Linked DNA regions of Homo sapiens. The protein of the gene in region 1 purifies or fractionates together with the protein of each later gene. This does not show direct contact. Each region holds a gene or a part of one and is shown in the gene's direction. Other genes may lie near its edges.

Region 1 (3,500 bases):
AGATTTTGCAGTTGAAAAATAATTTCAAATTTTTCAGGTTTTTTGTATATTTATTTTTTTCTAACAAATATATTTAACTATAAAATTAAAATTCAGTAGTTAAACTCTTCATAATGCAGAAATGGATGGCTTGATTGTATAGAAAAATGAGTCTTTCAGTTACACCATTCTTGAAAATAATAGTGTATGTTTGAAATTTGTCATTAATTAGTTGCTTTTGAAGGCAATCTATTTGAAATATGTAATTTCCTGATGTTATCTGCATTGTGTTAAGAAAAAAATAATAGGCTATAAAATCAATTTTTGTAAAAAAAATGTACAGTTTTAAGTTGTGTACAGAAAAAGGAAGAGCGTACACAGTCTTAGAGTGGAATATACCTCTAGTACAGTGTATGTGTTAATTCCAACTCAAGCAAAGAAATGAGTATTTACCATCTTTCCTATAACATGTAAATGTATTATTCCTGTTCTACAGACACTGTATATTTATGACCTTATTTGGACATTATTAGACACTGGTTTCTTAGTAAAGCACAGTAACTTGGATCAGATTCTTTGTAACCGAAACACTTAAACATGTATTAGTAATACCAATATATTTAGATTTTATATTTTTATAATTTAGCTTCTATGCATTACAGAAGTTGAATTAAGAAATTTAAGTCATCACCATATTTTTGTTTTCTTTACCACTTGGGAAAATAATCCTCTTTGAGGCAGTAACACTATGTATGTACTGTTAATAGGCCAGAAAGAAATATTGGCAGTTGTCTTAGGTAAGCAATAAAAACATCTCCAATTTACTGAAAGTTCAGAAATATAACTCTTACATGCATGGAAAGTGTAAACCAATTTAGGTATTTCTAAGTACCCAACCCTAGTATTCTCTCCCTCAACTCCAACATTCTCAAGTCCCAGATGAAAAGTTTCAGTGGAGCATTAGTTTAAATATTTAGTCTAATCAGAGACTCACAGCCCTGGGCAATAGATACATAGCTTTTTAAAATTTTATCCTTTGTGACCTGCTATAGTGGCATTGGACTATTTTCTGCATGTATTATAAACTAAAGATTGGCCTTATTTCAATTGTTTTTATTGCACAACTTCACTACAAATTTAAAGACTGCTGGCATTATTATAAAACTGTCTTCCTCCAATCCAAGTAAATAAGTATGTGGAATATTTGTGAGCTGGATTAGGTAACATCTGAGACTTGGGATTGACTAAATTTAGTTATCACTTGGAAATGAATTACATAAGATACAGTAATCAGAGAAAATATCTTTATGCAGCATGTATGTTAACATCTAGAACTGTCCCTCATCTGCAGTGCAGTAGAGGAATCAGACATTTTAAGAAATGTATTCAAATATTTTTATCTTATATGTTAGCAGCATTTACATGTTTTCAGATATGATTTGTAATATAAATTAATTTCTCCAGTTAACAATGTTTACTTCAATTCTGACATTCCATTTTATACATATATACCTACTGTATATCTCTCTCAAATGTCAGCTAGAAGCAACTTTTTCAGTTTTCTATCTAATGAAAACGGATATATTCTGAATGTTTTTGTTACCTGAAATTTATTTTTGAGTAGGTTGAAAGGACCAAGATACTTGAGTGATTAAAGGACTGTAAGTGTTCTGCTTATATGCAGGAGTTACATGATTTTAAAAGTCATAATAGGGGAAGTAGTTTTATCATCTGATTACTCCTATTAACCTAAAAAGTATTTCTAACATAACAGATTGAGCAGTGGTTTTGTTACACTTAGGCAAGAATTTATTTTCCCATTAAAATTTGAAAAATACACTTTTCTTTGCTTCTACCCTTGCAGTTTCCCTTAGTTCCCCTAATTTCCAAGTGATCTGAACTAAAATTAATATTACATTTACTAAGAAACTATTTTTGTTAATTATACTGAGCAAAGTTTGCTCCAAATGAAAAGTCATTACGAACTATGTATAGTACCCAAGAAAAGGTCAAATTGAGTCAGAAGACTGTAAGTACCACTTTTGGCGCTCCAGAGATAAACCTTGTACACACTGCAGTAGAACAGTGAGTAGAAAATATGAGCTATAAATAGATATTATTTTTAGTTTTGATAGCTCTGTGTTGAAATACTTTTTTAATGCAGATAAAAATTATCAGGAAATTAACCTTATGGCACAGACCAAATACTTAGTGCATGGCTGAGTTTCTACAATTCAAGGAGCCAAGAAAATAGGTTCAAGATGGAATATAGTACATGCATATAAGGCAGATGCACACATGCTGGTTACTTTAAGATTGTGTGTGTTGATTAGTCACAATGATAGACTATAACATGAGACAATACAAAGTTACATTTTTGGACCATATTAAAACTGCAAGAAGACAGGGGTCTTACTGAAGATCTTTTAGAAAACTTAAATCCTGTCACAGGATATTTAGACATGTGTAGAATGTAGCTCAATTTTTAAAAAGTAACTGACCTAGAGGGTGAAAGTTGAAACTGACACATTTTCAAATTAAGATTATGCTTATTTTGTACAGAAAACAATGTTTAAACACAAGCAGATCTGTTGTATGTAATAAGTAACACAGAGTTTTAAAACAAATTAATTATTTAGCTTTATTGAAGTTTGTTTTTTTCCTTCCGAACCTGGAGTATCATATTATAAACAGCAGTTTCACACCAGAATAGCAGTGCCCTTTCTTTTTGTACATACTGATTGGACCTTTCTTTACTGTTACGTGGACACTTTCTATGTTAGTTTTGATGCATAATTCTTTGAATCCTTTTATACAAACTAGAATGTATGTGTAAGAATACCTGTCCCTGCAATGTAGTAACTACAAACTTATTTTTAAATAAATAGAAAACTTGTTTTTCTAAGCTATTTTGTAGAGCCTCATGATTTATTATTTGCTTTTTAAAGTTTTTTGGCATCACATAAAGCACTTAGTACATAATCTCAACAAGCTGCTTACCAAAGTGGTCATATGGCAGATACCATTATGTAAATGCTGGTTCATTAGAGTTTCCAGTGCCCTGTGTGTTTTGCAAAGTGTGAAAACTGTCAGTTAAAAGATATTTGGGTGCCGAAATGTAATTTAATTCCAAAACAACTGAAGGTCAAAAACTTATATGCCTTTTTATGTGTACATTTAATAAAACAATTTTATTGATTTCTTACCGTAAGTTACTGTGATGAGTGATAAATACTTCACTATTCAGATACTTTCGTAAGAGATACATTTCAGTGGAACACTTTGCATAAATATTTTCTCAAAAATGTGCAATTTCTGGGAAAAAAGGAATGATGGAAAGAAGGTTATTGCAGTTTTCCTAGAAATTTTGTCAGATTGGCATGCATTTTTATTGACTAAGAATCCCAATTTTAGCATGAAGACCATTAGATATGAATACATAAGGCCATAACATTTCAAATTAAGCACATGGAGTGATTTGTAATTTTGTGTTAATTTCTCCCTAAGATGTTTTGTTAAAA
Region 2 (3,500 bases), on another chromosome or scaffold:
CCAGGCTGGAGTACGGTGCTGTGATCTCGGCTCACTGCAACCCCAGCCTCCCAGGTTCAAGCGATTCTCTTGCCTTAGCCTCCTGAGTAGCTGGGACTACAGGTGCCCACCACCATGCCTGACTAATTTTTTTTTTGTATTTTTAGTAGAGACAGCGTTTCACCACGTTGGTCAGGCTGGTCTCGAACTCCTGACGTCGTGATCTGCCTGCCTCGGCCTCCCAAAGTGCTGAGATTACAGGCGTGAGCCATCGCACTGGCCTATTTTTACTGTTTTTGTGTGGTCATTGTGTAATCAAGTATTTCAGCATAAGGAAAACTGATGATGTAATATAAAATGATAGGGGTATGGAAATCCTTGAATAATGCATTGAAGGCTGTACTAATATAGATTGTTGTTAGTATTAATTTTAAGTAAAGGTTGATTGTTTAATGACAATTTATCAGCTCATGTTTTCTTATCTTTTTTTTTTTTTTAAACAAGTGGTAAATGAGAATGTCAGTCTCGTGATCTCGCGGCAGTTGCTGACTGATTTTTGCACACATCTTCCTAACTTGCCTGATAGCACAGCCAAAGAAATCTATCACTTCACCTTGGAAAAGATCCAGCCTAGAGTCATTTCATTTGAGGAGCAGGTAAAAATCTAGAGAAGTGGTTTTTTAACTTGAGATAGCAGCAGTTATTTTGAGAATCTGATATTAGTAAATTCTTAAAGGAGATAATCATCCAATTTCATTTTTGACAAAACAGTGTGCCAAACGACATTTTATGATGCAAAATCAAGTAAATATTAGGTTGTTACAACTCCAACTGACATTTGCTTATAAAGTAAAATTTGATTTTGTGAATCAAATATTGCTCTCTAGACAATTTTTTAAAATCAGTAAAATTGGTATTTCAGCTGAAAACACAGGAAAACTCCAGCATCGTGTATGCAGGAACATACAAGCTAAATTTAATGTTTAAACTACAGTATTGTACCATAATCCACATTGCAGAAATGTGTTGCTTCCGTTCACTAGTTTGATATTCTGTAAATGCAAAATTCGTAGGAAAACTTGGGTGGTCTTGATAAACGTTTACTGTTTACGTGGCAGCTTAGTATGTTGAATTGCCACTTTAGAATAACTTTCCTATTTATTTTAATTAGTTACTAATGTCAGTTGAAATAATTTGACATGTATACCTATTATTCCAGGTTGCTTCCATAAGACAGCATCTTGCATCTATATATGAGAAAGAAGAAGATTGGAGAAATGCAGCCCAAGTGTTGGTGGGAATTCCTTTGGAAACAGGACAAAAGTATAGTAAATAGTGGATATTGGATGACTATATATAGGATGTATATAATTGCTCACTTATATTTTTTCTTACATTCTAGTACAGGAAACAGATAAACAAATAAATACAAAATTGTGTAGTATGTTAGAAGGTGATAAGTGCTGTGGAGAAAAGTAATGGGGCAAAGCGGGGACAGGTTGTATGTATATTTAAATAGGGTGATTGGGGTAGTAGGGTGGCCCTGATGTCACTTTATCAAAGACTTGAAGGAGATAAGGGAGTAGCTAAGAGTGATCTGAGGAAAGAATATCACCAGATACTCTTGTTGTTGTTGTTGTTGTTGTTGTTTTTTGTGACGGAGTTTTGCTCTGTTGCCCAGGCTGGAGTGCAGTGGCATGATCTCGGCTCACTGCAACCTCTGCCTCCTGGGTTCAAGCAATTCTCCTGCCTCAGCCTCCCAAGTAGCTGGGACTACAGGCATGCACCACCACACCTGGCTATTTTTGTATTTTTACTAGATTTTCACCATGTTTACTAGGTTTCACCATGTTAGCCAGGTTGGTCTCAAACTCCTGACCTCAAGTGATCCACCTACTTCAGCCTCTCTAAGTGCTGGGATTACAGGTCTGTGAGCCACTGCACCTGGCCGAATATCATCACTAGATACTCTTAGAGGAGATGGCTAGTGCAAAGGCCCTAAGATGGGAGCAAGCTTGAAGTGTTTTCTTAATAAGAGCAAGGAGGCCAGTGTGGATAGAGTAGAGTGAGCAAAGGGGCAAGAGATCAGGGATGAGAGTAGAGAGTACTGGGGACCAGGTTATGTGGAGTTTTATAAGCCATTGTAAGGAATTTGGCTTTTCACTAAGTGAAATGAGGGGGAGCCATTGGAGAATTGTGAACAAACAGTGAAATGATCTGACTTCTGTTTTAAATAATTACTCTCACTACTGGGTTGAGAATAAACTGTAGGCAAGCAGTGATAGAAGTAGGGATATTGGTTAAGAGGCTTATGAGACCAGGTACAGTGGCTCACACCTATGGTCCAAGCACTTTGGGAGGCTGAGGTGGGAGAAGATTGCTTGAGCCCAGGAGTTCGAGAACCACTTGGGCAGCATAGCTAGACCCCATCTCCACCAAAAAAAAAAAAAAAAAATGCTGGGCATGATGGCACATGCCTGTAGTCCTAGCTACTTGGGAGGCTGAGGCGGGAGGATCGCTTGAGCCCAGGAGTTTGAGACCAACTTGGACAACATATTGAGAACACCCCCCATCCCTACAAAAAAATTTTTTTTTGTTTTAAATTAGCTGGGCCTGGTGATATAGTATGGATATGCATCTATACTCCCAGGTAGTTGGGAAGCTGAGGCGAGAGGATTGTGTGAACCCAGTAATTTGAGGCTGCAGTGGGCCATGATTGCACTGCTGTACTCCCACCTAGGGCACAAAGCAAGACCCTGTCTTTTTTAAAAAAGGCTTATACAGTACCACAGATAAGGTGGATGTTGTGAGAAGTATTGAATTCTAGATATGTTTTTTAAGGTAGAGTAAGGATTTCCTGATGGCTTGTATGTAGAGTGTGCAAAAAAGAGTCAAGATAAGCCCTGATTTTTGGCCTGAGCAATTGGAAAGTTGGAGTGGGGAAGAATAGGTTTGTAGGGAATATCAAGAGTTTCATTTTGGACATATGATATCCAAGTAGAAATATGTAGTGAGGAGTTGAATGTATTAGTCTGGAGATTAGAAGAGATATCTGGACTAGATATACATATTTGGGAGTTATTGACATATAGATGAAATTTAAAGCCATTAGATTGGATGAGATGCCCAAAGGAGAGAATGTAGATAGGCAAAAGGACTGAGTATAGTGAGGCCTGGAGCACTTCAACGTTAAGAGGTTGGGACCAGGGGAAGATGTAGCAAATGAGAAGGATTATCCATTGAGGTAAGAAGGAAATCAGAATAATGTGGAGGGTGGTGTCCTAGAAGCCAAATGAGGAAAATGTATCAAGGGCCAGGTGGTGAGCTATGGCATTGATAGGTCAAGTAAGATAAGGAGTACAGGTTAACTGTTGGCATTAGTAGTGTAGAGGCCACTGATAACCTTAACCAGCTGAGTTTTGTGAAATGATAGTGAAAGCCTGATTGCATGGTTTAAGAGAGAATGGGAAGAGAAGATGTGGAGATAGTGAGTATGGGCTACCCTGTGGGGGAGTTTTCAA
Region 3 (3,500 bases), on another chromosome or scaffold:
CTTGCTCTGTCACCCAGGCTGGAGTGCAGTGGCACAATCTCGGCTCACTGCAAGCTCTGCCTCCCAGGTTGACGCCATTCTCCTGCCTCAGCCTCCCGAGTAGCTGGGACTACAGGCGCCCGCCACCACGCCCGGCTAATTTTTTGTATTTTTAGTAGAGATAGGGTTTCACCTTATTAGCCAGGATGGTCTCGATCTCCCGACCTCATGATCCGCCCGCCTCGGTCTCCCAAAGTGCTGGGATTACAGGCGTGAGCCACCACGCCCAGCCTAATTTTATTTATTAATTTATTTGAGATGGAGTCTCACTCTGTCACCCAGGCTGGAGTGCAGTGGTGCGATCTTGGCTCACTGCAACCTCCACCTCCCAGGTTCAAGCGATTCTCCTGCCTCAGCCTCCTGAGTAGCTGGGACTATAGGTGCGTGCCACCACGCCTGGCTAATTTTTGTATTTTTAGTAGAGATGGGGTTTCACCATCGTGATCAGCCTGACAGGCTGGTCATGAACTCCTGACCTTAAGTGATTCACCTGCCTCAGCCTCCCAAATCTGCTGGGATTACAGGCATGAGCCACCGCACCCAGCCATATTATTTCTGTATTTTCATTTGGCTTACCTGTCAACTTGACACTTTTTTGTTTTTTTAGGCTAGTCAGGTGAAGCAATGTGAGTAAGATCACCTGTCTTGATTATAACTTGTGTGTTCAGTGTTTGTCATTCATCCCTCCCTGTCTCTAGCCTTCAGTTCAGGGCATGATTTGGAGCAAATGTTCAGTATCTGTTTAACAAGAACAATCATGAGAAATACTTACTCACTACTTGTGTTTATGAAACATTATGTGCCAGGCACTGGGCTGAGCAATCCACACAGGTCAACTCGGTTAATCCTCATGACAACCCCTGAGATAAGTACTTATACCACCCTCGGTGTACACAGGAGGAAACTGAGGCTCAGGGAGTTTTTCTTTAAAAATTTTTTCTTTTTTTTTTCCTTGAGACAGGTCTTACTTTGTCACCCAGGCTGGAGTGCAGTGGTGTGATCTTGGCTCACTGCAGCCTCTTGGGCTCCAGCGATCCTCCCACCTCAGCCCCTCAAGTAGTTGGGGAGTACAGGTGTGCACCACCATGCCCAGCTAATTTTTTGTAGGGATGGGGTCTTGCCATGTTATCCAGGCTGGTCTTGAACTCCTGGGCTCAAGCGATCCTCCCTCCTTGGCCTCCCAAAGTGCTGGTATTACAAGTGTGAACCACCACACCTGGCCTTAAATTTTATTTATATATTTATTTTTGTAGAGACGAGGTCTCACTATGTTTCCCAGGCTGGCCTCGAACTCCTGGACTCAAGTGATCCTCTTGCCTCAGCCTCCAGAGTAGCTAGAATTACAGGCGTCTGCCACTGCACTTGGCTCAGGGAGTTTAAGTCACATAATCAGGCAGCGGTCTGCTCAGTTAGAGTCCATGCGCTTAGCCATGGTGCCTTCAAGTGACTCCACCAGGGTCACCCCAGTACTTCCTGGGCAGACCAGACCATCCAGAGCGGGCAGGTTGTGCTTTCCTGCATGGTGGGAGAGGACGTGGCATGAAGCTTTGTGTAAATCTGTGCAGCCTCTGCCATTGTAAATCACTGGCCACCGGGACAGACTCCCCCACCCCCTTCCAAAAACTAGAGGAACAGATGGGTGGAGTCGCATCCTTCCTCTGCAGGCATTTGGCCACCCACTCCCATTATGGAGCATTTCCTCAGGACCAGGCACAGCGTGGAGCCCTTTGCATAGCTCACTGAATTGGGGCAGCAACCCTGGGGCTGGGGACTACCATTATCTCCACCAGCCCAGCAAAGAGGGGAGGAGGGTACAGCCGAGACCCAGCTGCAGTATGTGGAGCACACTGGGGTGCCGTGAAGATAGCTGTCCAGCCTCTAGAGGCTGACAGTCCTGCCCTGACACAGTGGTTTGTTCTCAGACTCTGGCCTCCCCTCTTAGTGCCCGTCTGAAGACTTCAGCCTTCGGTCCTCTTCCATCAGCATGCCGTCTCCCCTGTGCCTCAGTCTCCCTCTCTGGAGTATCTGCTGGGGCCACAGTTTGGTTTTATTGTTCTTTGAGACAGGGTATCACTTTGTTGCCCAGGCTGGAGTGCAATGGTGCAGTCATGGCTCACTGCAGCCTTGACCTCCTGGGCTCAAGCCATCCTCTCACCTCAGCCTCCCGCAACTCCAGTATCTGGACTACATGTAAATGCCACCATTCCCAGCTAATTTTTTTTTTTTTTTTTAGATAGAGTCTCACTCTTGTCACCCAGGCTGGAGTGCAATGGTGCCATCTTGGCTCACTGCAACATCCGCCTCCCAGGTTCAAGCCATTCTCCTGCCTCAGCCTCCCAAGTAGCTGGGATTACAGGCACCTACCATCATGCACGGCTGTTTTTTGTATTTTTAGTAGAGACAGGGTTTCACTATGTTGGCCAGGCTGGTCTTGAACTCCTGACCTCAGGTGATCTGCCTGCCTCGGACTCCCAAAGTGCTGGGATTACAGGCGTGAGCCACCACGCCCAGCCTTCCTGGCTAATTTAAAAATTTTTCAGAGACGAGGGTTTTGCCTAGGCTGGACTCACTATGTTGCCTAGGCTGATCTCGAACCACTGGCCTTAAGTGATCCTCCCACCTCAGCCTCCCAAAGTACTGGGATTACAGGCATGAGCCGCTGCACATCGCCACAGTTTGATTTTAGTATCCACTTTAAGGTGCAGTTAGTTCTTCCCAGCTCCTCTTTTCCCTATCTCATACAGTGTAGTCACTTCCCTTTCTCCCACTTCTCACCTTCCTAGATTTTGTTTTTCTCTCTCTTACCAAGTTTTGAGTATGTAATACGTCCCAGATCGGTGCTGAACCCCTGGTGTGAGTTAACTTAGCAACTTTTCACGTGGTGTTCTGCAGCCTTCTTACAGATAAGGAAATTCAGAGAGGTGAAGTGTTTTTGCAGAGAGCCACACAATGAGCTAAGAAATTAGAACCCAGGGCAGTTGAACTCCAGAGCCAGGGAACTTAACAGCCCATTCATGCATTCACTCAGGAATTCCCTCTTGAGTGCCTGCTGTGAAGGCAACCTGGACGCTGTCTCTGCCTTCCTGGGATTGTGGTGTGTGTGGGAGACAGACACGAAACAAAGCAATCTTCTAGGTCAGTGTCTGGCTATGCTGGGTACTCAGAAGGGGGAAGCACTGTGCTGCAAGAGGCCGGCTGTTTCCTCCTCACAAGGGGAGGCCTGCAGTGACATTGCCAGGCCTGAATCTGCCCTGCCATTGGGAGTGTAATTTCCTCACGACTACAAATGCAAATAAATACACACACTGAACATGCTACCCCGCTAGAACTGTGGACAGCTTGTTCACTGCAGTTAAAGGAAGACGGAGGGACACATTTGAGCACGCATGTGTGAGATCCAGCTTGTGGCAAACCCTGCCATTCTTTAACATCTGTGGGAAGTGAAGCCACCATTACTGACC
Region 4 (3,170 bases), on another chromosome or scaffold:
GAACCAGCTGATTCAGAAGAAGCTGGCAGACATGCTCACTGAGATTACCCTGGGCCTTCACGCCTGCCTGCAGCTCGGCCGCTTGAAGGACCAGGACAAGTAGGGGCTGTGTGGTGGGGGCGGGGGGATGGCAGCGGTGGCTGGAGGACCTTGTGTCCTTCCTGGAGAGAAAGGTCCTTCCTGCCTGGTGGCCCTGGGGACCTGAACCTTCTGCTGTCCCTCTTGTCCTTGATGGGCTGGGCTGAGGACAGCCCCACTGGTCCCTCATTGGGAGCTTGGCTGCATCAGGGAATCCCCACCCCGGGCTAGGTTTGCTTGGAGCATCGGGATGCCAGGATCCCCAGTCCTTGTTACCCTCATGTGCCACTCCCAGGGCTGCCCCCGAGATGGTTTCTCTGCTGAAGAGGAATAACTGTGGGAAAGCCCTGGACATCGCCCGCCAGGCCCGAGACATGCTGGGGGGGAATGGGATTTCTGACGAGTATCACGTGATCCGGCACGCCATGAACCTGGAGGCCGTGAACACCTACGAAGGTAGGAGCTGGACCTCAGAGGGCTCACTGAGGCCTCAGTGTCTGGGGAGGGGGTACAGGGAGGTGGGACGGGGACAGGTCTGAGTCCAACTCCACCTATCACTAAGTGACAGTGTGACCTGGGGCGAGCCTTACCCCTCTGTCCCTCATCTGGAGTTACTCACATGGGGACTGTGGAAGTGAAGTGCTTCATGCAGCACACAGAGGCCCCATCAGGCCTTGCGAGGGGCTCCCAGCTCTTTCTCCCACATGCTCGGGAGGAGGGATGTTCCTGAGACAGGTAAGCTCCGAAGGCAGCCCAGGGGTGAGGCCCGACTCCTAGCAGGCTGGTGGACGCAAGGGAGTGAGCGAAGCTACACGCAGGAATCAACGCTCCATTTTGTTAAGAGACAAAAGTCATCTTCAGATGACGGTGTTTGCACCCTGTAACTGATGGTGATTTACATGGGGGTCCAGAACCCCTTGCTTGGTGGGAAGACAGATGTGGAAAAAGATACTTAAAAAAAAAAAAAAAGTGCAAACCCAGCATGCGCTATGTAGAAATAGAGGGAGGTATGAGGACCCCCCGGGCAGAGATGCTTCCAGACAGAGAGAACAGCAAATGCAGGAGGGGTGCCTTCCCTGCGCACCTTGCAACCCCAGATCTTGTCTCTATCTGGCATCTGGGGGGTGGGGGGATCCTACAAATGTGAGAATGACCCTGAGGACAAGCAGCGGGCGCCATGAGATGGTTTTATGCAGAGAAGGGATGAGTCAGATTTGGTGCTTTAGGGGCTCGGCGCAGTGGCTCACACCTGTAATCCCAGCGCTTTGGGAGGCTAAGGCAGGAGGATTGCTTGAGCCCAGGAGTTAGAAGTTATGATGAGCTATGATCACCCCACTGCACTCCAGCCTGGGTGACAGAGTGAGACCCTATCTATATTTAAAAAAAATAGGTTTGTACTTTAGGAAGTAAACAGAATTGGCTCTAAAAAGGAGGCTACAATCTGCCTTCTGCTTCAAGGAGCTGGGGAGGAGCAAAGGATGAGACACCAGGGCATGGGGTGTGGGATTCTCTGGGAGAGGCGGCTTCAGATGGGCAGAGGTCAGCTGAGGCAAGTGACTGCTCTTCCGATGTGCTGTCCCTCCTATCCCTCCCGAGGGTAAGAAAGGGCTTGCTGTGTTTCCTTGGAGCTCAGGGGTGCTTTCAGCCTCTGTGGCAAGGAAGCGTGGCCAGGTTGAAAATCAAACATTTAATAAACTGTGGGGCTGGGGGTGGGGAGAACTTGCCAAGGGTGGGGAGCACGAAGCCTGGGCCTATGGCAGGGGCTGGACTTGCTACATTTTGGGAGTTCAGCACAAGGAGCTTTGGGTTTTTGTTTTTTTCTGCCAAGATGCATTATAGAACCATGAAAAACAATTTCTCAGTGTGGCCCAAATGGTGGCCTCACAGTCTTCTCCTGGAGACTGTCACTAAGGCGTGAGTCTCCCGGCAGCTGTCAGCATTCACCATCTCTGTTGGTCTGTACTTCTGAAGCAGTGGCCTGGGGATACATGAAAATTGATTTTAAAGGGAAGTTGTGAGCTATGAAAACTCCAAACCGACTCTGTATTAATCTTGTCCAGGTACACATGACATTCACGCCCTGATCCTTGGGAGAGCTATCACGGGAATCCAGGCGTTCACGGCCAGCAAGTGAGCCGCTCCATCAGGGGCCCGAAACTCTCAAGCCCCTTTCTGGAGAGATGCCTGGCTGGACCGTAGGAGCGCTGTGCTCTGAGCTTAGAAAGGGAGGTGGCGGATGGAGTGGGAAGTGAGAGACACTGATTTTTAAATATCAAAATTTCCCTTCTGAAGTCGTTCAGATGTGTTCCTTAAAAAGAAGATGGAATTCTCTGTAGAGCGTCTCAATCCACTTTTAACCATGGATGAGAGCAGACTCCATTTACCCTGAAATAGCAGCTTCTCTTGAGAGGAGAGTGACATGGAAGCAACTCCGTCTGCTGCAGCTGACCCCCTCACACTGAGTTCACAGTGCGCCCTCCCTCCCTCCCATCTGGGGGTAGTGCCTTATGCTGGGTGTTGGAGCAGAGTGAGGGAGAGGAAAATAAAGACCTGCACATCTGACCCCAAGGTGTCAGGCCGGTTTACTGGTAACCACCTGAGAAGTAGTTTCAGCCACAGAAGAAACGAACACGTCTGGGGGCTGTGAGTTGCCGGGACGTGGTGGGGACTTTCCCCTAGAGTGGTCTGGCCCCCATCTGAGTCTTAGGCTCTGCTGTAAAAAAGAAACCCAGGTTAGCAGTGCCGGTCTGTGCCAGGGCTGTGGGCAGAGGGGATGATTTCTGAGTGGCAGGGGTGCAAGGGACTTTGTCCTTTCTGTCACCACAGAGCTGCTCATACAACAGTGGGACATGACAACGGTTTGGCTTCTCAGCTCAGACACACCATGTTATAGGGGATCACAAACAAGATGGTGAGTGCACCAAGGGCTTTGCAGGGACTGTGGCCTGGCGGGGTCAGGGCTGGGTGCCTGGTTTCTGTTCACATTTACTCTTGGCTGGGCCATCCCTGTCCTCTTCCTCAGGCAGCGCCCCCCCTGTGAGTTTACTCATACCTCAGGCTGGAGACACAGGTCTTTGTACACAGTCTCCACG
Region 5 (3,500 bases), on another chromosome or scaffold:
CTCACTTTTGGTTAATAATATAGTTAACCAAAGTCAACTCTATTGGCTTTGTTAATGCAGTAGGTATAAAATTCTGTGTTGAAAATCATTTTTTGCTCAGAATTTTGAAGCCATTATTTGGCGTCAAAGACTTCAGTGTTACTTTTGAGAAGGCTGATATGATTCTATTTCCAGTATACATACATAGCCTGTTCTCTCTGAAATTTAGAATCATCCCTTCTGTTTTGAAATTGCACAGCAATGTGCTTTGATATGTCTCTTTTGGGGAAATCCTTTTAGTCTCAAGCTCATATTCTTCAGTCCTAGGATGGTGCATTATTTGATCATTTTGGTCCCTGCATTTCCTTAGTGATGTCTTTTGTTTCTGAAATTCCTATTCAGTAAGGTTTAGACCTCTTTGGTTAAATCTGTTCATTGTTGATCTTTTTTTTTTTTTTTTTTTTCTTTTTCTTTCTTTGAGACAGTCTCACTGTCGCCCAGGCTGGAGTGCAGTGATGCAATCTCGGCTTACTGCAACCTCCCAGGTTCAAGAGATTCTCCTGCCTCAGCCTCCCGAGTAGCTGGGATTACAGGTGCCTACTACCATGCCTGGCTAATCCAGGTCTTCAAATGGCTAGTTATCTTGCTACTGAAATATGTATTCAAGTGCTTTTACTTAGCCAACCATCATAAATTCACTGCACACAGAAGTGCTTTATTTATAACTTCTTATTTCTTTACATAGAATATTAAAAGACAAATGCAAGGGTTTGGGATTTTATAATGGTAATCATTTTTACTTCATCAAGGACTTTTACGTGAAACTGGCCTTTTTTCCTGAGTGTGTAGTAATGGAGAAGTAGTTTGGCGCCACTACCTTGACTCATACAAAGGGACTAGCAGTTTTAAGTGCCATTACTATTTCACTATTGGTGAGAACTAATGGTAAAACTTTTTACCAACCTGAAGGAAAACATTTCTTACTGAAAATCAATGAGAAAAGGCATATAATTTCTATGTAGTGACTTCTTTGCATAATATATTTTGTTGTGGTAGAGAAATACAACAGAACACTCAGTTGCTATCATATATCCTTATTAACAAGCAGAAGCCTTAAAAATGTGGAAGAGTCTTATGTATGCATTTATCTTGACTTTATAGGGGAAGTCAGAATTATAGCTCAGAATGACCAGTGTTTTGGCTTTATAGAGCTATTGAAGAGTATCTGATGGTTGGAGAACTCACACATCTTGATTTCAAAACTTACTACAACGCTGTAGTAATCAAAACATCACGGTACTGGCCTAAGGATAGGCATATAGAAGAGTGGAATAAACGTGAAAATTCAGAAATAAATCCTCACATTTATGGTCATTTAATTTTTGACAGGGATGTCAAGATAATTCAATGAGAAATGAATAGTCTTTTCAACAAATGGTGTTGTAATAACTAGATATTCAATGTAAAAGAATGAAGTTGGGTTAGTCCTCAGACCATACAAAAAAATTAATTGAAAATGAATCATAGACCTAACTGTGACAGCTAAAGCTATGAAACCCTTGTAGAAGAAGTATAAAGTAAATCTGAGTGACCTTGAATTAGGCAGAACCTTCTTAGATATGACACCAAAAGCACAAGAAAATAGATAGGCCAGGCACAGTGGCTCACACCTGTGATCCTAGCATTTTGGGAGGCCAAGGCAGGAGGATCACTTGAGGTCAGGAGTTCAAGACCAGCCTGGCCAACATGGCAAAACCTAGTCTCTGCTAAAAATACAAAAATTAGCCAGGCATGGGGCAGTTGCCTGGAGTCCCAACTACTTGGGATGCTGAAGCACGAGAATTGCTTGAACCCAGGAGACGGAGGTTGCAGTGAGCCGAGATCGTGCCACTGCACTCCAGCCTGGGGGATAGAGTGAGACTCTGTCTCCAAAATAAAAAAGAAAATAGATAAATTGTACCACTTCAAAATTAGAAACTTTGGTGCTTCAAAGGACACTATCAAGAAAGTGAAAATAAAATGCACAGAATGGGAGAAAATGTCTGCAGATCCTGTGTCTAGAATATGAAAACTCTTACAGCTCAATAATAAAGCAACAACTCAGCTACAAAATGGCAGAGGATCTGAACAGGCATTTCTCCAAGAGGCATACAGTTGTCAGTAAACATATGAAATGATGCTCAGCGTCATTAGCTATCAGAGAAATGAAATCAAAACTACAGTGAGGGCCGGGCGTGGTGGCTCATGCCTGTAATCCCAGCACTTCAGGAGGCCAAGTGGGGGCGGATCACTTGAGGTCAGGAGTTCAAGACCAGCCTGGCCAACATGGTGAAACCTCGTCTCTACTAAGAAATATAAAAATTAGCTGGGCGTGGTGGTGCATACCTGAAGTCCCGCTACTTGGGAGGCTGAGGCACAAGAATCGCTTGAACCTAGGAGGCGGAGGTTGCAGTGAGCCAAGTTTGCACCACTGCACTCCAGCCTGGGTGATAGAGCGAGACTCTGTCTCAAAAGAAAAAAAAAAGCAGGATACTAATTTACACTCATTATATGGCTGTCATCAAAACGACATAAAAACTGTTGGTTAACGTGGAAAAATTGGAACCTTGATACATTCTTAGGAATGTGAAATAGTGACTAGTGCAGTCATGGTGACAAACAGTCTGATGATTCCTCGAAAAGTTACCATATGACCCAGCAGTTCATCTCCTAGGTATATGTATACCCAAGAGAAATGTCCATACAAAACATATTCAAATGTTCATGGCAACATTTTTTACAATAGCCAGAAAGTGAAAACCCAAGTGTCCTGCAGCTGATGAATGGATAGATAAAATGTGGTATATCTACACAATGAAATATTCAGCAGTAAAAGGGAATGAAGTGTTGATACGTGTCACAACACAGATGAGCCTTGAAAACAAGTGAAAGAAGCCAGACACAAAGGCCACATTTTATTTGATTCCATGTATATGAATTGTCCAGAATAGACAAATCCATAGAGACAGGTTAGTGGTTTGTCTAGGGCTGAGATGGAGATAGGGGAGTTGGGGAATGATTGTACTCAAGGACATAGAGATTAAAATGTTCCAAAATTGTGATGGTTGCATAATTCTGCTAAAAATCATTACATTGTATGCTTTTGAATTTTATGTGAATTCTGTCTCAATAAAACTTTTTTAAAAAATAAAGAACTCCCGTCTCTCCATCAGCCAGAAAGGACATTGGTATTGAGGTTGACAAAACCTACAAGGACAAAAACTACCATGGCTTCCAGTGCTTTCATGAAACCTCAGATATGTGGCCTTCTGGCCAGGCATCTGTGATTTCATGTTGTTGAAGTGTTCATTTTGCCCTGGGGTTACATCTCTCTATTAAAATTTCTGTGGCTGAACCAAAAAAGAAGGCATATGTAGATTTCTGCATAAATTATGACTCCTTGAAAGATTCTAAGATGAAGGTGGCTTATCTTTGAGAGTGCAAGATGATTTTGGAATATAAAAAATTAGTTTGGCCCAGGC
Region 6 (3,500 bases), on another chromosome or scaffold:
TAGTTGGATGTGGTGGCACACACCTGTAATCCCAGCTACTTGGGAGGCTGAGGCACGAGAATCACTTGAACCTGGGAGACAGAGGTTGCAGTGAGCCAAGACTGAGCCACTGCACTCCAGCCTGGCTGATAGAGTGAGACTCTGTCTCATAAAAAAGAAAAACAATTATTTAAAACCTGACAGGGAGGATACCATGATCATGAAGGTAGTTTTCCCAGGGCGAGGTTTATCCATTGCACTCTGGATGTGCTGATGCCCTGCGATTTCGCCAAATGTGGGAAACTGAACTGCGTGACTTATGGTAGTGGAGGACTGCATTCACACTTTCCCCTGGCAATTTTTTTTTAATTAAAAAAAAATTGTTATTTTAAAACAATGGACTAGTTTTTAAAATGTGGATATTTATAGTGTTTAATGATATGAGACATTAACTAGATCAGTGATTTTTCTCTAGAAATGATTTACATATAAAATACAATAGTCTAAGTTAATAGTAATGGCAAAAACCACAATTACTTTTGTGCCAGCCTAATAGCACAATATCTAGTAAATGTTATGTGCTTAATAAATGAATAATAGAATCAATTAGAATATGATAGTACCCTGCAGAGCATCTCTGATAATCTCCAAAGAATGTCTTGTGTTAACTTGAAAAGTAAACCTCTTGTGAAAAATTCTTCAGCCTCTCTGTAATTATTGGATTCTGCTGAGTTTCTTTTTTTTTTTTTTGGAGACAGCATGTCACTCTGTCACTCAGGCTGGAGTGCAGTGGCGCGATCTTGGCTCACTGCAACCTCTACCTCCTGGGTTCGCTTGAATTCCCCTGCCTCAGCCTCCTGAGTACCTGGGATTAGAGGTGCGCGCCACCACCCAGCTAATTTTTGTATTTTTAGTAGAGACGGGGTTTCACTATGTTGGTAATGCTGGTCTCGAACTCCTGACCTCGTGATCTGCCCACCTTGGCCTCCCTTAAGTCCTGGGATTACAGGCGTGAGCCACCGTGCCCGGCCAAGATTCTGTTGAGCTTCTTACTCTCCTTGCTGTACTGGTTCTATTTAGGTTCAAACTTAATGACTCTTGCTCCAGGAGGGGCAACTGTCCTTGTTTTCTCTAGTGTAGTCCTTCTCGCTGCTTAGCTCTTCCTCACTGGAACTTGGCAGCAGTCAGTCTGCATTCCACTGGTTTTTGTGTGTGTGTGTGTGTCTTTTTTTTTCCCCCCCTAAGAAAACGGGCTCTGCAACTTTTTGGGAACCTGTACACACAAAACTTACCTGTCAGTAATCCCTGGCTCCCCCACCACAATTCAGTACTTAAACTTCACCAGTCTTCCAGCCATATGCAGCTAACTTTAGAGACACTGTGCAGGAATAGCCCAGACACAGGAAGTTGGTAGAGGCCATAAGTTGGATGAAAGAAAGGAAATGGGGATAAGGGAGTAGGAAGAACTAAAGAGAGTCATTGGCAGTAGACAGGAAATCAGAGAATAGAGGAGAGAAAGGATTGAGATCACAAGGGAGGAAAAACAGATGGGCAGGATATGAAGGATGTTATAACATGGAAGAACTATAGAAAAGCAAATGGGTGCATGGAAGAGAAATGACATCTCATTTTGAAATGTATCTTGCCATTCATTTTATGTTGATTTACAATTTACAGGGCCAGGAAAATTCTCTGTGTTGGACTGCTTTAGACAAAAATGAAGGCGAAATGATAACTTCTAAGGGTAAGTATGAAGTATGTGTTTTGATATGTTACTACTTTGACAGGATAATTGTTATACCTTTTATTTATTATTACTAATTTTGGGTGGAACAGATTTCTGTGATAGCATATAAGCATCAACTTGGATATGCATTTATCAAATCATTAGGTGGAAAAACAGGCTATTCATAATTGTCAGTCACTATCTTTCTGACTTTTTTCCCCAGATAATTTAGAAGATGAGACTGAAGATGATGACCTATTTGAAACTGAGTTTAGACAATATAAAAGAACATATTACATGACGAAGATGGGGGTTGACGTAGTATCTGAGTACGTTTTTGCCAATGCTTTTATTTTAAAATAGAAAAAATTAGATTTTGCAGTTATTCAGAAAATATGATTTTGATGAAGTAGTGGGAGAAAAAGGATTTTTTGGTTTCATGAATTATTGTGTATGTTTCAACTAGTCTGGTTTTGGAGAAGATGGTATTAATTCTGACTTGTATTATATTCCTGTGATAAAAATTGCTGAAGAGAAAATGATCCTTATGTATAAGGATTTTTGTTACAAAGTTGTTTATAATAGTAAAAAAATTAGAAATAATCTAAATGTCCAATAAGAAGGTTCATCATAATTGGCCACTGCTTCTTCATTACAGTCACCATCTCTGTCACCTCTTCCATCTCCGGAATCTGCAGAACTGCTAAACTGGTACTTGCAGAAAGTTCATAACAATTTGGAAGGATGCTTATAGTACATTATTAAGTACAAATTGTAAAGGCAAGACATGAAATCATACATACAGTATGCTCTCATTAACCTTAAAAAAACCTAGATATAGATAAAAGACTGAAACACTAAAAATGTAAAAGTGATGGCTATAAGATGATAAAAATGCTGTTCTTCATTGTCCAGATTTTCACTCCTGAGGAAATAGTTCTTTTATAATAAAAAAGCAATATTTTTCATATTAAAAAACTACCTCCCAGAAATATGTAGTTATGTAATTTCTAAGTGAATATTTTTGCCTTTAGCCCAGGGCTCTGTTTTGTTTTGTTTTGATGATTTGAAGACTTATTTTACCCAAACTTAGAAGATGGCATTTGGTTTTTGACAAAGAAAGGATTAGAAGGAATATTGTTCACATACAGCACTTCTGAAAGCATTCTAGCTTCTGTGACCAAATTTTAAGATCTTCCTGATTTGCTGCTTTGCTTCTCTCAGATATCATCCCATGTAAAGAAGATTCCCATCCCTTTCTCCCGTCTCACCCCCACTATTTAAGAGAGTGGTAGTGTCACTATGGAAAGCTTCATTGGGTAAATCTTCAACCTTTGGACCAAGGGAGTGGTACATTAACTGAGTAAATATGAATAACAGACTTATCTATTTTGATAGTTGGTTTAGGAAAACTGTCATGTGACAGGATGTAATTTTTAAAAATATTTTGGAGTTTTTAGGATTATAATTTTTAGCCATAAATAGCTAATTCATTGATTAAATAAATCATCTGAGGTAAAATGTTGTATCAGCAGATACCGTGCTCTAAAGACACGGGCCTGTCTTCAGAAAATATGTTATAATGAAAATATTCTATTTTCAGTGACTTTCTGGCTGATCAAGCTGCATGTTATGTTCAGGCAATACAGTGGATTTTGCACTATTACTATCATGGAGTTCAGTCCTGGAGCTGGTGAGAGAATAAAAACAAAAATAAAGTTTTGTCTTTTTATAATGATTCATTCTACTAGAGTCTTATTTAGGAAGCACTTCCTTTTATTTCTACTTATGGTAA
Region 7 (3,500 bases), about 37 Mb from region 1:
CCACTGCTGCCAACTTCCTAACTCACTCTTCGGCCTTAGGCATGACCCGTCTTCTCTCTGGGCCTCAGTTTTCCTAACTGTACAGTGGGTGAAGAGGACACCTGCAGCCCCACATCCTCGGGCTCACCATCCTGAAGCTGTGGGTTGGGAGCCAGGCAAGAAGAGACCTGAAGGTCTCAACGTACACCCTCTTTGTTCCAAGGGCATCGGGAGCCTACTTCCATGGGTCCTTCTTGAAAGGGGTGCTGTGGAGCTCGGGGCAGAGGACACTATGACCCATGCAAGTCTCCTCCTTCCCAATTAGGCAGTGGAGCCTGATTAAAAGGGGTGCTGCCTGCCCCCTCCCACCCGATCCCCATCGACGAGATTTCCCTTCATCAGAATCTCACATTCTCCAGAAATTAATTTGATGCCTCATGTTATCAATTAATTGAATCTCGTTGGGAGAGAGAGCTCCGCGAGGTGAGGCGAGCTTCAGCTTGGCCCTTGTGTGCCGCCATCCCCCCTCCCCCTCACACCAGGGCAGCCTTCTCCTCCCCCATTCCTTTTTTTCTGCCTTTCTTTTAATTGCACTTATTTTCTAAAATAAAACCACTGCTCTGTGCCCCTTTGCCCAGTTTGGCTTGGATGGATACCCATGGACTGGGTACTGGCTGGGATTTGCCCTTTCAGAGGTGGGGGCAGGAGGACTTCCCCTCCCCTGGACCCTGTCTGATCTCTCCTTAAGTAAACAGAATCTCACCCTTTGGGAATTTGGCCGTGATCCTGTGTGCTCCAGGGGCTTCTGGTGAGAAACTTAGGAGGACTAGGGGAGGGAGGAAGAGCTGGGAACAGACTGCACCCTAGTTGGGGACAGAGGAGGTAGAGAAGGACCAAGCTAGGGACCTTTTAACCCTCAGGATTTTGTCATTCAGAAGCTGCTGCCCCTGCCAGAACTGATCCATTAAAACACAGGGCAGAGGGCATAGGTGTGTGGTACCTCCAAGCCTCCCAACAGTCAGGTCAGATATCTGCAGGAACAAGCCCTCAGCATTTTCAAGGACACTTGGAAGCCCTTGCTCTGCCCCCTGCATGGAAGATGGGGGAAGGAAGTTCTAATAGGACATCCCTATTAGGAAACCTGGGAGGTTGTTGTGGCAGGTAGAGCTAGGTAGTCACCAGGCCCTGACTGAGGAACTGTGCTTTGCCGTTTCACATACCTCCTTGTTCTTATCCCCACAACAACCCTGAAAGATTCTCCAGGCAGTGGTAATTATCACTCTCATTTGATAGGTGAAGTACCCAGGCCCAGAGAGGTTACCTGACTTGCCCCGAGTCACAGTTAACTGGAACTTGCCTTTCTGAAATGCTGGCCATAAGGGCTGAGGTCACAAGTGGACTAACTTCATCCCTGCTGAGTTTTGTTGACCCACACACAGTTCATTACAATGGTAAATTTCACATAAATATCCCCACTTCTGCTCCTTTTGAAAAACCCAAGCCCTGTCAACACTGAGCCTGCATTTCTGTGTGGAAAGGATGGACTGGGATTGAGTGGCAGCTGCCTCCTCGTGCCCTCCTCACCTGGCCTCCTAAGTGACCAGCCTAGCCCCTGAAGGCATTTTGGTTAGCAGCTTTGACATGGAGATTCACCTGTCCCCAGTATTCCTCAAGGAGAATCTAGTGTGGGACAGTGTCTGAAGGACTCTGCAGGGTCTAGCCAGGCACAGTGGCTCATGCCTGTAGTCCCAGCACTTTGGGAGGCCAAGGCAGGTGAATCACCTGAGGTCAGTGGTTCAAGACCATCCTGGCCAACATGGCGAAACCCCATCTCTACTAAAAATACAAAAGTTAGCCGGGCGTGGTGGCAGGCACCTGTAGTCCCAGCTACTCAGGAGGCTGAGGCAGGAGAATTGCTTGAACCCGGGAGGCGGAGGTTGCAGTGAGCCGAGATTGTGCCACTGCACTCTAGCCTGGGCGACAGAATGAGACTCTGCCTCCAAAAAAAAAAAAGACTGCAGGGTCTGTACAAGAAGATCTCAGAGAGAGGACCTATAAGGACACCCTGACCCAAATCTAATTCCCACACAGCTACTTAATAACTGATGGTGGGATGGGCGCAGTGGCTCATGCCTGTAATCCCAGCACTTGGGAGGCCAAAGTGGGAGGATCAGTTGAGCTCAGTTTGAGACCAGCCTGGGCAATATGGTGAAACCCCCTCTCTACAAAAAATACAAAAATTAGGGTGTGGTGGCATGTGACTGTAGTCCCAGCTACTCGGGAGGCTGAGACCAGAGGATCACTTAAGCCAAGGAGGAAAGGTTGCAGTGAGTGAGCCGAGATCGCGCTACTGCACTCCAGTCTGAGCGACACAGAGTGAGACCCTGTCTCAAAAAAAAAAAGAACTGATGGTTGTGGGTGATTCTTTTTGCCTTCTTTCTACCACAGAGGTTAGGTCTTTGTACCATAAGGCCTTGTGTCTCCGGGGGCCTGTTTCAAGATGAAATCAGCGCATCCCTGCCAGGGTGAGCCCCTCTATGATAAAGTCATCACTTGCCCCCTACATCTGAGGAAATGAAGGGAGGGGCCAAGGCATGTCGGGGCAGGCTGGGCAGAACAGCCAGGGGCCCAGAAATGGCCATACTCAGTGGTTTGTCCCAGGCCCTCTAGAGCCCCTCCTGTGCCCAAAGGAAACCCTGGTGCCAAAGGCACCACCAGAACCAGGCTCCAGATGGCCATTCAGGCCCTGGGCGAATTGCCCCTACCCCTTAACCAGCAGGCCCCCCACATAAGACGTCACTATTTAATTAGCCGTCTCTGATTAACCAAACTTGGCATTCGGCTCCTCTTGCCCTCATCTTTCCCAGCTCCGAATCAATGGCTTTGATATGCTAATTAGGGAGTAATTTAATTTCAAAAGGCCGCAATTAACAAGGGTGTTGTGGACATGCTGTAGTTAAGCGGAGTAATCTAATTTGCATTAGTAACAAGCAGGGACTAATTAGAAGCTTAATTAGACACTTAGATGGCTCTTATGTTTACTTTCTTAATGAGATGGAGTGGGATCTTTGGTTCTCTTTCTTTTTTTCCCCCTGTATTGTTAATTCTTTTTTTTGGTCTGTGTAGTAGGAAGGGGTATTGAGGGAGGCCACCTTGCCAGGGCCTGTGGGAGCGTTTCAGGGATGGAGCCAGTAAAAGGTAAGGTGGAGGGTGGTGGTAGGGGTAAGGGAAGGCTTGGATTCCAGAGTGACTCGGGGAGTTAGGACGCGGGGAGGAGCACTGGTTTAGGAGTCAGGAGAGCCACCTGGTTTCAGTTTGGCTCAGTCACTTAGCAGTCAGGTAACCTTGTCAAGTCTTTGGCATCTTTGAAGTGTGGTTCCATCCTCTGTCAAAATGAGCGCAAAATTGCATGGGGGAGAGAGGAGGGAGGGGCTATAGGAAAGCACTCTTGGGGACTCTGTGAATGTTTTTTTTTTTTTTTTGAAATGGAGTCTCGCTCTGTTGCCCAGGCTGGAGTGCAG

Evidence for each region.
Region 2: the proteins of PHIP (region 1) and COPS4 purify together in Homo sapiens (affinity purification with mass spectrometry, with the first as the bait; one large-scale study listed by BioGRID). This does not show direct contact.
Region 3: the proteins of PHIP (region 1) and BCKDHA purify together in Homo sapiens (affinity purification with mass spectrometry, with the first as the bait; one large-scale study listed by BioGRID). This does not show direct contact.
Region 4: the proteins of PHIP (region 1) and GCDH purify together in Homo sapiens (affinity purification with mass spectrometry, with the first as the bait; one large-scale study listed by BioGRID). This does not show direct contact.
Region 5: the proteins of PHIP (region 1) and SUPT16H purify together in Homo sapiens (affinity purification with western blotting; 2 studies listed by BioGRID, with this or other methods). This does not show direct contact.
Region 6: the proteins of PHIP (region 1) and XRN1 purify together in Homo sapiens (affinity purification with mass spectrometry, with the first as the bait; one large-scale study listed by BioGRID). This does not show direct contact.
Region 7: the proteins of PHIP (region 1) and FOXP4 purify together in Homo sapiens (affinity purification with mass spectrometry, with the first as the bait; one large-scale study listed by BioGRID). This does not show direct contact.

The regions. Positions count from the first base shown.
Region 1 is NC_000006.12:78,935,255-78,938,754, reverse strand, and holds part of PHIP (PH-interacting protein), read left to right. Parts: 3' UTR 1-3,222; coding exon of another isoform or gene 3,223-3,294; 3' UTR 3,295-3,500.
Region 2 is NC_000004.12:83,048,683-83,052,182, forward strand, and holds part of COPS4 (COP9 signalosome complex subunit 4), read left to right. Parts: intron 1-483; coding exon 484-635; intron 636-1,198; coding exon 1,199-1,302; intron 1,303-3,500. UniProt on the Homo sapiens protein: Component of the COP9 signalosome complex (CSN), a complex involved in various cellular and developmental processes.
Region 3 is NC_000019.10:41,404,318-41,407,817, forward strand, and holds part of BCKDHA (2-oxoisovalerate dehydrogenase subunit alpha, mitochondrial isoform 1 precursor), read left to right. Parts: intron 1-3,500. UniProt on the Homo sapiens protein: Together with BCKDHB forms the heterotetrameric E1 subunit of the mitochondrial branched-chain alpha-ketoacid dehydrogenase (BCKD) complex.
Region 4 is NC_000019.10:12,897,330-12,900,499, forward strand, and holds the end of GCDH (glutaryl-CoA dehydrogenase, mitochondrial isoform a precursor), read left to right. Parts: coding exon 1-99; intron 100-373; coding exon 374-534; intron 535-1,456; exon of another isoform or gene 1,457-2,011; coding exon of another isoform or gene 2,012-2,056; intron 2,057-2,138; coding exon 2,139-2,212; 3' UTR 2,213-2,370; coding exon of another isoform or gene 2,371-2,414; 3' UTR 2,415-2,670; downstream 2,671-3,170. Other genes in the region: SYCE2 (synaptonemal complex central element protein 2), read right to left, coding at 2,012-2,056, 2,675-2,791, 3,131-3,170. UniProt on the Homo sapiens protein: Catalyzes the oxidative decarboxylation of glutaryl-CoA to crotonyl-CoA and CO(2) in the degradative pathway of L-lysine, L-hydroxylysine, and L-tryptophan metabolism. It uses electron transfer flavoprotein as its electron acceptor. Isoform Short is inactive.
Region 5 is NC_000014.9:21,374,020-21,377,519, reverse strand, and holds part of SUPT16H (FACT complex subunit SPT16), read left to right. Parts: intron 1-3,500. UniProt on the Homo sapiens protein: Component of the FACT complex, a general chromatin factor that acts to reorganize nucleosomes. The FACT complex is involved in multiple processes that require DNA as a template such as mRNA elongation, DNA replication and DNA repair.
Region 6 is NC_000003.12:142,417,038-142,420,537, reverse strand, and holds part of XRN1 (5'-3' exoribonuclease 1), read left to right. Parts: intron 1-1,656; coding exon 1,657-1,723; intron 1,724-1,928; coding exon 1,929-2,034; coding exon of another isoform or gene 2,035-2,068; exon of another isoform or gene 2,069-2,697; intron 2,698-3,308; coding exon 3,309-3,398; intron 3,399-3,500. UniProt on the Homo sapiens protein: Major 5'-3' exoribonuclease involved in mRNA decay. Required for the 5'-3'-processing of the G4 tetraplex-containing DNA and RNA substrates. The kinetic of hydrolysis is faster for G4 RNA tetraplex than for G4 DNA tetraplex and monomeric RNA tetraplex.
Region 7 is NC_000006.12:41,552,881-41,556,380, forward strand, and holds part of FOXP4 (forkhead box protein P4), read left to right. Parts: intron 1-3,500. UniProt on the Homo sapiens protein: Transcriptional repressor that represses lung-specific expression.